2 separate regions of the Homo sapiens genome follow, and region 1 is linked to region 2. Evidence: fine-mapped expression QTL. A gene starts in region 2. The other region holds a variant in brackets. All regions are shown on one strand. Distances are between the middles of the regions.

What was found. PIP is the estimated chance that this variant, and not a neighbour inherited with it, causes the effect.
Region 1: its variant is fine-mapped to the expression of VNN2 in whole blood (INTERVAL, PIP 0.99).

What each region holds. Positions count from the first base shown.
Region 1 is chr6:132,729,516-132,734,899 of GRCh38, reverse strand. It overlaps the pseudogene VNN3P. Among named protein-coding and RNA genes, the nearest start is that of VNN1, 18 kb to the right of the region's middle. The variant G/A (reference allele first, on the strand shown) is at 2,832.
Region 2 is chr6:132,754,589-132,759,972 of GRCh38, reverse strand. It overlaps VNN2 (vanin 2), which reads left to right and starts at 2,069. Exons shown (of 7, transcript NM_004665.6): 1 at 2,069-2,302; 2 at 2,427-2,557; 3 at 3,938-4,130. The coding sequence starts at 2,090.

The DNA.
Region 1 (5,384 bases), 25 kb after region 2:
CAACTGCACTGTACACTTGAATCAATCCAATTACGTCCTGGCTGTCAGTTTTCTTGCACAACATCCTTTCTCAATGCTGTGTTGTGTAATATATGTGCAAGAAAATATAAACAGCTGATTGCCAGGAGGGATTTAATGTAAAGTTTTTCCAGTGAAACAAAACGTAAGAATCTGAGTTTGTTTTTCAAAGATCACTAAATTTTAGTTATGATTATATCACATTTTCCAAAATGTGTGGCAGTTTTTGCCCTCCTTGCTCTGAGTGTTGGTGCACTGGACACTTTTATTGCTGCAGTATATGAGCATGCGGTGATATTACCAAACAGAACAGAAACACCTGTTTCAAAAGAAGAAGCTTTGCTCCTGATGAACAAGAACATAGATGTTTTGGAGAAAGCAGTTAAGCTGGCAGCGAAGCAGGTATTACCCTTTTATACTTGTAAAGGAGACTTGCAGTTTGGTCAAAGAGTATTTGGAATTCATGACAAACTTTTTTGCCCCACTTGTTTCGAGCAGGGTGCACATATCATTGTGACCCCAGAAGATGGAATCTATGGTTGGATCTTCACCAGGGAGAGCATTTACCCCTATCTAGAGGATATACCAGACCCTGGAGTGAACTGGATTCCATGTAGAGACCCCTGGAGGTAATATCATATCATTAATTTCTAAACAAAAAGTTGTGATTTGGTAAAACACCAACAGTAAACTCACTGAATTTGACTGGTAATTGTGTTGATAAATAGTCAATCTGTGGCATAGGATGTAGATGCTTTTTTTTCCCTGTAATTTCAACTTTTAGCTTAGATTGAGGGAGTACATGTGCAGGTTTGTTACATGGGCAAATTGCATGACGCTGAGGATTGGGGTACAATGATTGCACCACCCAGCATAGTATACAACAGGAAGGTTTTCAGCCCTTGCCTTCCTCTCTCTCTCTCCCCTCTATTAGTTCCCAGTGTCTATTGCTGTCATCTTTATGGCCATGAGTTCCCAATGCTTAGCTCCCACTTATAAGTGAGAACATGCAGTATTTGGTTTTCTGTTCCTGTGTTAACTTGCTGAGGATAATGTCCTTTGGTGCTGCAAAAGACATGATTTTGTTCCTTCTTGTGGGCACCTAGGTTAATTCCATATCTTTGCTGTTGTGAAAAGTGCTGCGATGAACATACAAGTGCACGAGTCTTTTTGGTAGAATGATTTCCTTTCCTTTGGGTATATACCTAGTAATGGGATTGTGAGTCGAATGGTTGCTGTGTTTTAAGTTCTCTGAGAAATCTCCAAACTGCTTTCCACAATGGCTGAACTAATTTACATTTCCACCAATAGTGTGTAAGTGTTCCCCTTTCTCCATAGCATCTTTTATTATTTGACTTTTTGTTAACAGTCATTCTGACTGGTGTGAGATGATATCTCATTGTGGTTTTGCTTGGCATTTCTCTGATGATAAGTGATGTTGAGTGTTTGTTCACGTGTTTTTTGGCCACTTGTATGTCCTCTTTTGAGAAGTGTCTGTTCATGTCTTTTGCCCACTTTTCAATGGGGTTATTTGTTTTGTTTTTGCTTATTGATTTAAGTTCCTTATGGATTCTGGATAGTAGACCTTTGTTAGATGCCTAGTTTGCAAATATTTTCTCCCATTCTGTAGGTTGTCTATTTACTCTGTTGATAGTTGCTTTTGCTGTACAGAGCTCTTTAGTTAAATTAGGTCCTACATGTCAAGTTTTGTTTTTGTTGCAATTGCTTTTGAGGACTTAGTCATAAATTATTTTCCAAGGTTCATGTCCAGAATGGTGTTTCTTAGATTTTCTTCTAGGATTCTTATAGTTTGAGGTCATACATTTAAATCTTTAATACATCTTGAGTTAATTTTTGTACATGGTGAAAGATAGGGGTCCAGTTTCAATCTTCTGCATATGGCTAGCCAGATATTCCAGCACCTTTTGTTGAATAAGGAGTCCTTTCCCCATACTTATTTTTGTGAACTTTGTTTGAGCTACAGATGGCTGTAGGTGTGCGGCTTTGTTTCTAGGCTCTCTATTCTGTTCTATTGGTCTATGTGTCTGTTTTTCTAACAGTACCATGTTGTTTTGATTACTGTAGCCTTGGGTAATGTGATGCCTCAGGCTTTGTTCTTTTTGTTTAGGATTGGTTTGGCGATTCAGGCTCTTTTTTGGTTCCATATGAATTTTAGAAATTTTGTTTATAAATCTGTGAAAAAATGACATTGGTAGTATGTTAGAAATAGTGTTGAGGCTGGGTGCTGTGGGTCATGCCTATAATCCCAGCACTTTGGGAGGCCAAGGCAGGTGGATTACTTGAGATTAGGAGTTTGAGACCAGCCTGGCCAACGTGGTAAAACCCCATCTCTACTAAAATACAAAAATTAGCTGGGTGTGGTGGTGTGTGCCTGTAATCCCAGCTACTCGGGAGGCTAAGGCATGAGAATTGCTTGAACGATAGAGTGAGACTCTGTCTCAAAAAAAAAAAAAAAAAAAAAAGAAGAAAAGAAATAGTGTTGAATCTGCAGATACTGCTTATGTTTCATAGTGTATATCATCTGGCATATCTCCTGTTTGGTAAATGACTTGAGATACTGATGACTAGTTGGTTATTTGTTGCAATTGTCTTTCAACAATAGTAGGTGTGACCAGGCGTGGTGGCTCACACTTGTAATCCCATCACTGTGGGAAGCCAAAGCAGGAGGACTGCTTGAAGCCAGAAGTTTGAGACCAGCCTGCGCAGCAAAGCCAGACCCTATTTCGGCAAATAAAAAATTTAGCCAGGTGTGGTGGCTCACACCTATAATCCCAGCTACTCGAGAGGCTGAA[G/A]CAGGAGGATCACTGGGGCCCAGGAGTTTGAGGCTGCAGTGAGCTATGATTGCACCACTGCACTCCAGCCTGGGTGACAGTAAGACCTTGTCTTAAAAAAATAGTAGGTATAGGCCGGGTGTGGTGGCTCACGCCTGTAATCCCAGAACTTTAGGAGGTGGAGGTGGGCAAATCACCTGAGGTCAGGAGTTCGAGACCAGCCTGGCCAACATGGTGAAACCCCATCTCTACTAAAAAATACAAACATTAGCTGGGTGTGGTTGTGCATGCCTATAATCCCAGCTACTCGGGAGACTGAGGCAGGAGAACTACTTGAACCCAGGAGGCAGAGGTTGCAGTGAGCCGAGATCACGCCACTGCACTCCAGACTGGGCAACAGAGTGAGACTCCATCTCGAAAAAAAAATAGTAGGTATATACACAATTTTTATAGTAAATGTGTTTAATTGGGTTTGAACAAAGTGAAAAAGTTGGAATATCTAGAACCTGTGTCCCAAATACAAGTAAGTTGGTTCATCCATGGACACCTGCCTCCTTCACAGGAAGAGTAAAAAGATGAATGAGCCTGTTTCCAAAGAGCTTTGCTATCACTGTCATTCAGAATGCAATCAATATGGCCAATGGAAATTGTATAGGACTTGAAAAAGGAAGCCCTACTTCTGGGACCACATTTTACGACCACCTAGCTGAGTGATGTAAGCGTATAACCTAAATGCTTAACATTTCTGTTTCATTATCTGTAAAACAGGGATAATAGAGTCCCTTAATTCTCTTACAGATCAGACAAGAGTAATGAAGTAATACACATGGAATTTGTACATTGTGATGCACTCTCCAATGCTAGCTGTCACTATTCCTTTTTTTTTTTTGTTAACAGAAGGGACTGAGTCTGAACTTCTTTGTGTTCTTGTCCTTTGAGAGACTTTAGTAATTATTAGTAGATGTAATTTAGGCATAACTTTCTTAAAGAAAATATGCATAATAAATATGATATCTGTGAAATAGATTATTTTAGTTGTATTAACTTTTAAAAATAGTTTAAGATTATTTCTTTAAATGGCAAAATTGATGGGTTAAGAAGTCATTTAACTTGCTAATTTTAAATTTACATGCACCTGTTTAGAACTACACCTATTGTGCAAAAAGAGAAACTTCTTTGATAATTTTACCTATGTGAAATTAAGTGGAAAGTCATGCTTAATGGTACAACATTCAGGCTCAGCTATGTGAGTCAAACCTCACTCTGGGATTTTGCCCTTTGGAAAAATATTCTCTAAACATTGCATGGTCTGTGTTTACAGAAACCATGTCACTATGATTCAACATCTACTTGCTTATGAGGCGTTTCCCAGAACAGGAAGGAATCATTATTTGCTGCAGTTGATGAGGCTTACACGAAAATGTACTGTATTTGACTGGGCTAATGAAACTGACTTTTCCAGGGAAAATATATCCATAAATTTGATAATTAGCTATCGATAAATTATTTTAAGTTGGGAAAGTAGGTGACTGATGAAATGTCAACATTATGAACTCTTACACCTACTTATTCAAATGACAACGTTTCAGTTTTGTGTTACAGAAAGGAGAAATCCAGTATTTAATATAATGATAATATTGGAAAAGAAAGTCAGTTTTCTCCCTGGTGATATTTATCCCTGAAGAGAATAGTAGAGAGGCATGCGGTCATCCTTGTGCATTTAAATATTTAGAATGCTGACATGTCAAACAGTTCCATGGGCTTTTTTCACGAGTAACTAGTAGGAAATATTAAATAACTCAAATTATTTAGTCAAGAAAAGAAAAATTAAACAAAGTACATGATAAAGTTATTAAAGGTCTTAATGAATATGAATATTAATAGTACTTCTCTGTTTTTTTTAGAAGAAAATAAAAAGAAAAGGTCTAAACCAGTAGGCCATTAATCTGTCCTTTTTATTCAAAGGTTAGTTTAACCTCAATTGCAGAGGGGCTGTGAGTTCATAGAGAGACATGGAATGGCCTCTAATCACACAATCCATAATAGCAATTTTCATTTACTGAGCACTTACTTGGTCCCAAGAACTGTACCTGGTATACTATACCCATTATTACATTCAATTTATGTAGTTGGCATTACTATTTGCATTACAAATATGTGAAAAAAGGAAGGCTTATGATCTCATGATTGATCATTAGATTGGCTGGAATTAAAACAGCTATGTCATTTAACTGTGCTAACGGAATGGACTCTAAGGGCCTAGATGAACCATATTATAATAAAATTTTTAGTGACTAGCAAATCCACTTATTTAACAGAGTGAGCTGGTTGCTAAACATTTTTTGTCTTATTTTCTGCTGAAATCTGCCTCACTTTAACTTCCTTTCGTCTTTTTCCTGCATTCTATGCTATGTTCACACATATGACCCATCTCCTATAAATTAAGCCTTTCAAATATTTGAAGCCAGCTATCACCATGCTACATTCTCTTCTTATACCAAGGATAAATATCTTTAATATGGATGGACTTGGTAAAACAATTTCATGTCTGTACTTATCTCAGGATTTCTCATG
Region 2 (5,384 bases):
TAAACTCTAACAGCACTCATAATCTATTATATACCAATCACCTATGCTAATTTACTAATTATACACTAGATAGTATGGTTATATACTAACAGTCTATTATACAATCTGCTAAAAATTCATAAAAATATCTATCCCTTTACATTTTCCACAAAAGGGCTTGACCATTTTTCCTGAATTATTTTTAGTTTTCTGCTCTATAGAGATAAGAAAAGTTATTCCTTTAATAGAAACTTCTATTCAAAGCAGAAAATATGAGCAGATCTTATTTATAGCCCCTAGGCCCCATTCTTAACAAAACATTTATCTCAGTAAGAAGGAAAGCACAGAATAAACTTTGTTTAATCGTACCTACTCTTCTATGCTGTCTAAAAGCATTTCCGTGACTTTTACCAAAGGGCTGGATAAAAATAAAACAAATCCTTTATTTGGCAGGATTGGGCCTGGGGAAGGGAGAATATGAATGTCCTAAGAAGGCATCTGAGATCACATCCTGTATTTGTTGTTATTATTGTTTTTTTTTTTTTTTTTTTTTTTGAGACGGAGTTTCGCTCTGTCGCCCAGCCTGGAGCGCAATGGTGTGATCTCAGCTCACTGCAGCCTCTGCCTCCTGGGTTCCAGCGATTCTCCTGCCTCAGCCTCCCGAGTAGCTGGGATTACAGGCGCCCACCACCACGACCAGCTACTTTTTGTGTTTTTGGTAGAGATGGGGGGTTCCACTATGTTGGCCAGGCTGGTCTTGAACTCCTGACCTCAGGTGATCTGCCTGCCTCGGCCTCCCAAAGTGCTAGGATTACAGGCATGAGCCACTGCACCTGGCCTGTTAGCATTGTTTTTAAACTCATTGTTGTTATTTGCTGCTAACAAAAATGTAAGTTACATCTTCTCCTTATTACAACACAGATGATCTTTATCACCAATCCTGGACTCTTCCCCTTCCCTGGCATCTTCCTCCAAAGCAGGGGGTGGGGAGGGAGGAAAAAGAAGGAGGAGAAGGAGTAGGAGGAGAAGGAGAAGTAGGGGGAGGATGGGGAGGGAAGGGTGAAAGAGAGAAAGAAGGAAAGAAGCGGAGTATCCTGAGGCCTGGGGCCCCTGAGCTGAGATTCCTCCTCTGGCCTAGGTGCCTCGGGGTATTGTTGCTGTAGGCACTAACTATACAGCAGTGAACAAACCAGACACAAAATCCTGCTTTTCTGGAGCACATGTTTTCAGTCCTTAATAGCAATAAGTAAGTCAGAGTGTAGATTTGGGTAAATTTTGTTATCAATATTGTCCTGTGTTACATTTTCTTAGTAGTAAGTATTTAATATTTTCCCCCCCGTCTAAAAATAAACACAATGTAAGTGACTCAACAGAACCAAAAAAATTGTTGTCAATTTTTAAATTTAATAAATGAGATATTTGTTGGGATGTGATTTTTTTACACGAGAGTTAGTTATGAGTTTCTATTAACAAAAGCTGGAATTGTTCTATATTTGAATTCGGGTGTCTTTTGGAAATTCAATATTAAATCTTAGTACTAATAGTACATGCTGTTCAATCCCTGTAATACTTTCTGATTGTCTTAAATGGACTGCAACTTTTCTTTCTTTAAAAGTGGTCAGATATATTGCGTTCTTAAGATTATAAAGTAGGCCAAGTGCAGTGGCTCACGCCTGTAATCCCAGCACTTTGAGAGGCTGAGGTGGATGGATCACAAGATCAGGAGTTTGAGACCAGCCTGGCCAATATTGTGAAACCCCATCTCTACTAAAAATACAAAAATTAGCTGGACGTGGTGGCGCGCACCTGTAGTCCTAGCTGTTTCAGAGACTGAAGAAGGACAATCGCTTGAACCTGGGAGGTGGAAGTTGTAGTGAGCTGAGCTTGCGCCACTGCATTCCAGCCTGGGTGACAGAGCAAACTCCGCCTCAAAAAAAAAAAAAAAAAAAAAAAAGAAGAAGAAGAAGAAGAAGAAGAAGAAGAAGAAGAAGAAAAATGATGATAAAGTAAAAGGCCAGTAACTGGCAGCCACATGTTATGCAAACATTCTCCCCTCTGTAAATACTACATGAATGTTATTTTTGCTTTCAGAAATCACTAAACCTTGGCCATGGTCACTTCCTCTTTTCCAATCTCTGTGGCAGTTTTTGCCCTAATAACCCTGCAGGTTGGTACTCAGGACAGTTTTATAGCTGCAGTGTATGAACATGCTGTCATTTTGCCAAATAAAACAGAAACACCAGTTTCTCAGGAGGATGCCTTGAATCTCATGAACGAGAATATAGACATTCTGGAGACAGCGATCAAGCAGGCAGCTGAGCAGGTATTCTCTTATTTCTGTTAATCATAATGTACACGAGGGGCATGGGAGCTGGTGGAAGACGAGAGAGCTGAATTGTCTGTGTTGTACATGGAAAAATCATTTTTATTTTGCTTGTTTTGAACAGGGTGCTCGAATCATTGTGACTCCAGAAGATGCACTTTATGGATGGAAATTTACCAGGGAAACTGTTTTCCCTTATCTGGAGGATATCCCAGACCCTCAGGTGAACTGGATTCCGTGTCAAGACCCCCACAGGTATTTTAACTATCTTAGTCTTTTGTGCAAAAGTAACTCTCTAAAATGCGCACGTTCACCAAAGCAAAATGATTGCTCTTGAATTACCATATATGTGGTATATGTTATGGTTATATTTATCTCAACATTTGTCAGATTTTAAAAAATTGTACTTAGATACTATTTAACAATCTTTTGTGATTGAAAATCTTTATTAAATTTTGAGAAAATGTGTAAATAGGGTATTCCTGCAAGAAAAACTAAGGGAAGAGATCTCATAGATACAAGTAGTAACTTAATTTCTGAAGTAGACAGTGGATTGTGTTAGGAATACATTCCAAAGCCTCTGCTGAAGGGACACCCTTTCAATGTTATAGAGTCTCTCCATTCCAGAGTTGCTTCTTAGGCAGAAAGACTTCACCATGTATTTTCAAGTGAATCATAAGACCTTATGCTTTGAAACTGCATTTTCCTAGGCTCACAAATCTAATTTTCCTGGGAAAAGGTTATCTAGAAACCTTCTAATATATATTAAAAATCTGGGTCCTACTGTCATCCTGGAGGTGTCAACGTGGCAGTTGCATGGACAAGTCTGGCATGAAAAGACAAAATTATATCTGGAGATAGAAAATCAAATGTCAGCATATAGATGGTGTTAAACACCATGATGAGTTCACCTGTGGAGTGAGTTAGAGAAGAGTTTAGGTATAAGGCTTGAGCACTAGGAAATTCTAGTGTTTAGACTCGGAAGAAAACGAGGAATCAGCAGAAGAGTCGAAGAAGAGCAACCAATAAATAGGAAAATGAGAGGGTGGGTCCAATAGAGAAGTGAGGTGTTTCCAGAAGGAGGTGTAATTAACTGTGCCAACTGCTGTTGAAAAGTTAAGATGAGATCAGGTAAAATGTGGGGGTCACTGCTGGCATTAGTAAGAGTTTGGGTGATAGAGATACAAGTTGGAGTGCTCTGAAAGGGAATGGGAGAGGAGGAACTGGCAACAGCAAGAGGGACTGATCTTTTGAGGAGTTTTGCTTTAAGAGAGAGATGAGGATTAAAGCAATATTTGGAAGGGCATGTTTGGAAAGGTCAAAAGAGGTTTTAATTTTATTTTTTAAAGATGGGAGGTACTAGAGGATATTTCATTGCTGATGGGATGTTTCAGTAGAGAGGAGACCCTTGATGAGGCAGGAGACCGAATAATGAATTTCTGGAGCAATAGATACCGTGTGGGAAGCATTCATCAAGTGTATAATCATCTGTGGCTTTTAAAGTATGATATTTTTAGGCATAGTTTTTGTATTAACTTAAGTTCCACTTAAGTGGTTACAGTTGCTATCGTTTCCATATAAAGTGACTAAAATATTTTTTTAAAATTGAAATTTCTTAATTATAATTTGGTTTAGATTTGGTCACACACCAGTACAAGCAAGACTCAGCTGCCTGGCCAAGGACAACTCTATCTATGTCTTGGCAAATTTGGGGGACAAAAAGCCATGTAATTCCCGTGACTCCACATGTCCTCCTAATGGCTACTTTCAATACAATACCAATGTGGTGTATAATACAGAAGGAAAACTCGTGGCACGTTACCATAAGGTAAGAGAGAGTGACGGACGTGTAAAATGGAGCGTGTTGTGAGTGGTCAATGCTGGGTTTAGGAGTTTGAATTTCATTCCCTATATGATACAATATTACTAGAGGGTTTTTTTGTTTTGTTTTGTTTTTTGTTTTTTGAAAGTGGGCAATAAAGAAAATGACACTTTTGGCTGGGCGTGGAGGCTTATGCCTGTAAGCCCAGCACTTTGGGAGGCTGAGGCAGGTGGATCACTTGAGGCCAGGAATTTGAGACCAGTCTGGCCAACATTGTGAAACCCCGTCTCTACTAAAAAATACAAAAATTAGCGGGGCGTGATGGCACATGCCTGTAGTCCCAGCTATGTGGGAGCTGAAGCAGGAGACTTGCTTGAACCCAGGAGGTGGAGGCTGCAGTGAGCCGAGATTGTGTCACTGCACTCCAGCCTGGGTGACAGAGGGAGACTCTCAAAAAAAAAAAAAGAAAAAAAAGAAAAAGAAAAAAGAAAATGACACGTTGTAAAAAACTACTCAGAAAAACATGTAGGCAGAGAACTGTTAAAAAAAAAAAAAAGTAGCATGATGGTCCAGGATTGAGATAAACTTTTTGCACATATAAAACAAATAATTTTAACATAAAAAAAGATACTAAGGTGACTATAATCTGGGCACTGTTTCAATAATTTTATATTTTTTTAGAGACAGGGTCTCACTGTTGCCCAGGCTGGAGTGCAGTGGAGCCATCATGGCTCACTGTTAACCTCAAACTCCTGGGCTCTAGTGATCCTCCTGCCTCAGCCTCCCAAGTAGCTGAGACTGTAGGCATGTGCCACCATGCTAATTTTTAAATATTTTTTTGGAAACAGAGTCTCACTACATTGCCCAGGCTGTCTTTGAACTCTTCACCTCAAGCAGTCCTCCCACCTTGGCCTCCCAAAATGCTGAGATTAGAGGCATGAGCCACTGAGCACAGCCATAATCTAAATACTATTTAATATTGAAATGGTAGAAAGATGTTTCAAAATTGTATGAATCAGCTTTGCATAAGTTAATTTGCTATCAAACCACAAAATACCTTATTTTCTACACCAGCTAATTTAATTACCATCTTATAGATTTAAGATCAAACCATAAAATGTTTACTTTAAATTCTGAATTGAAAAAAGGAATCAAATAACCTTTAAGTCATAATTTTATACTAAACTAGGTAGAGAAAGAAGCCTGGCCTTTTAAATGGATATGTGTGATGTACAGGCAGTATGAATGTCCCTTCTCCAC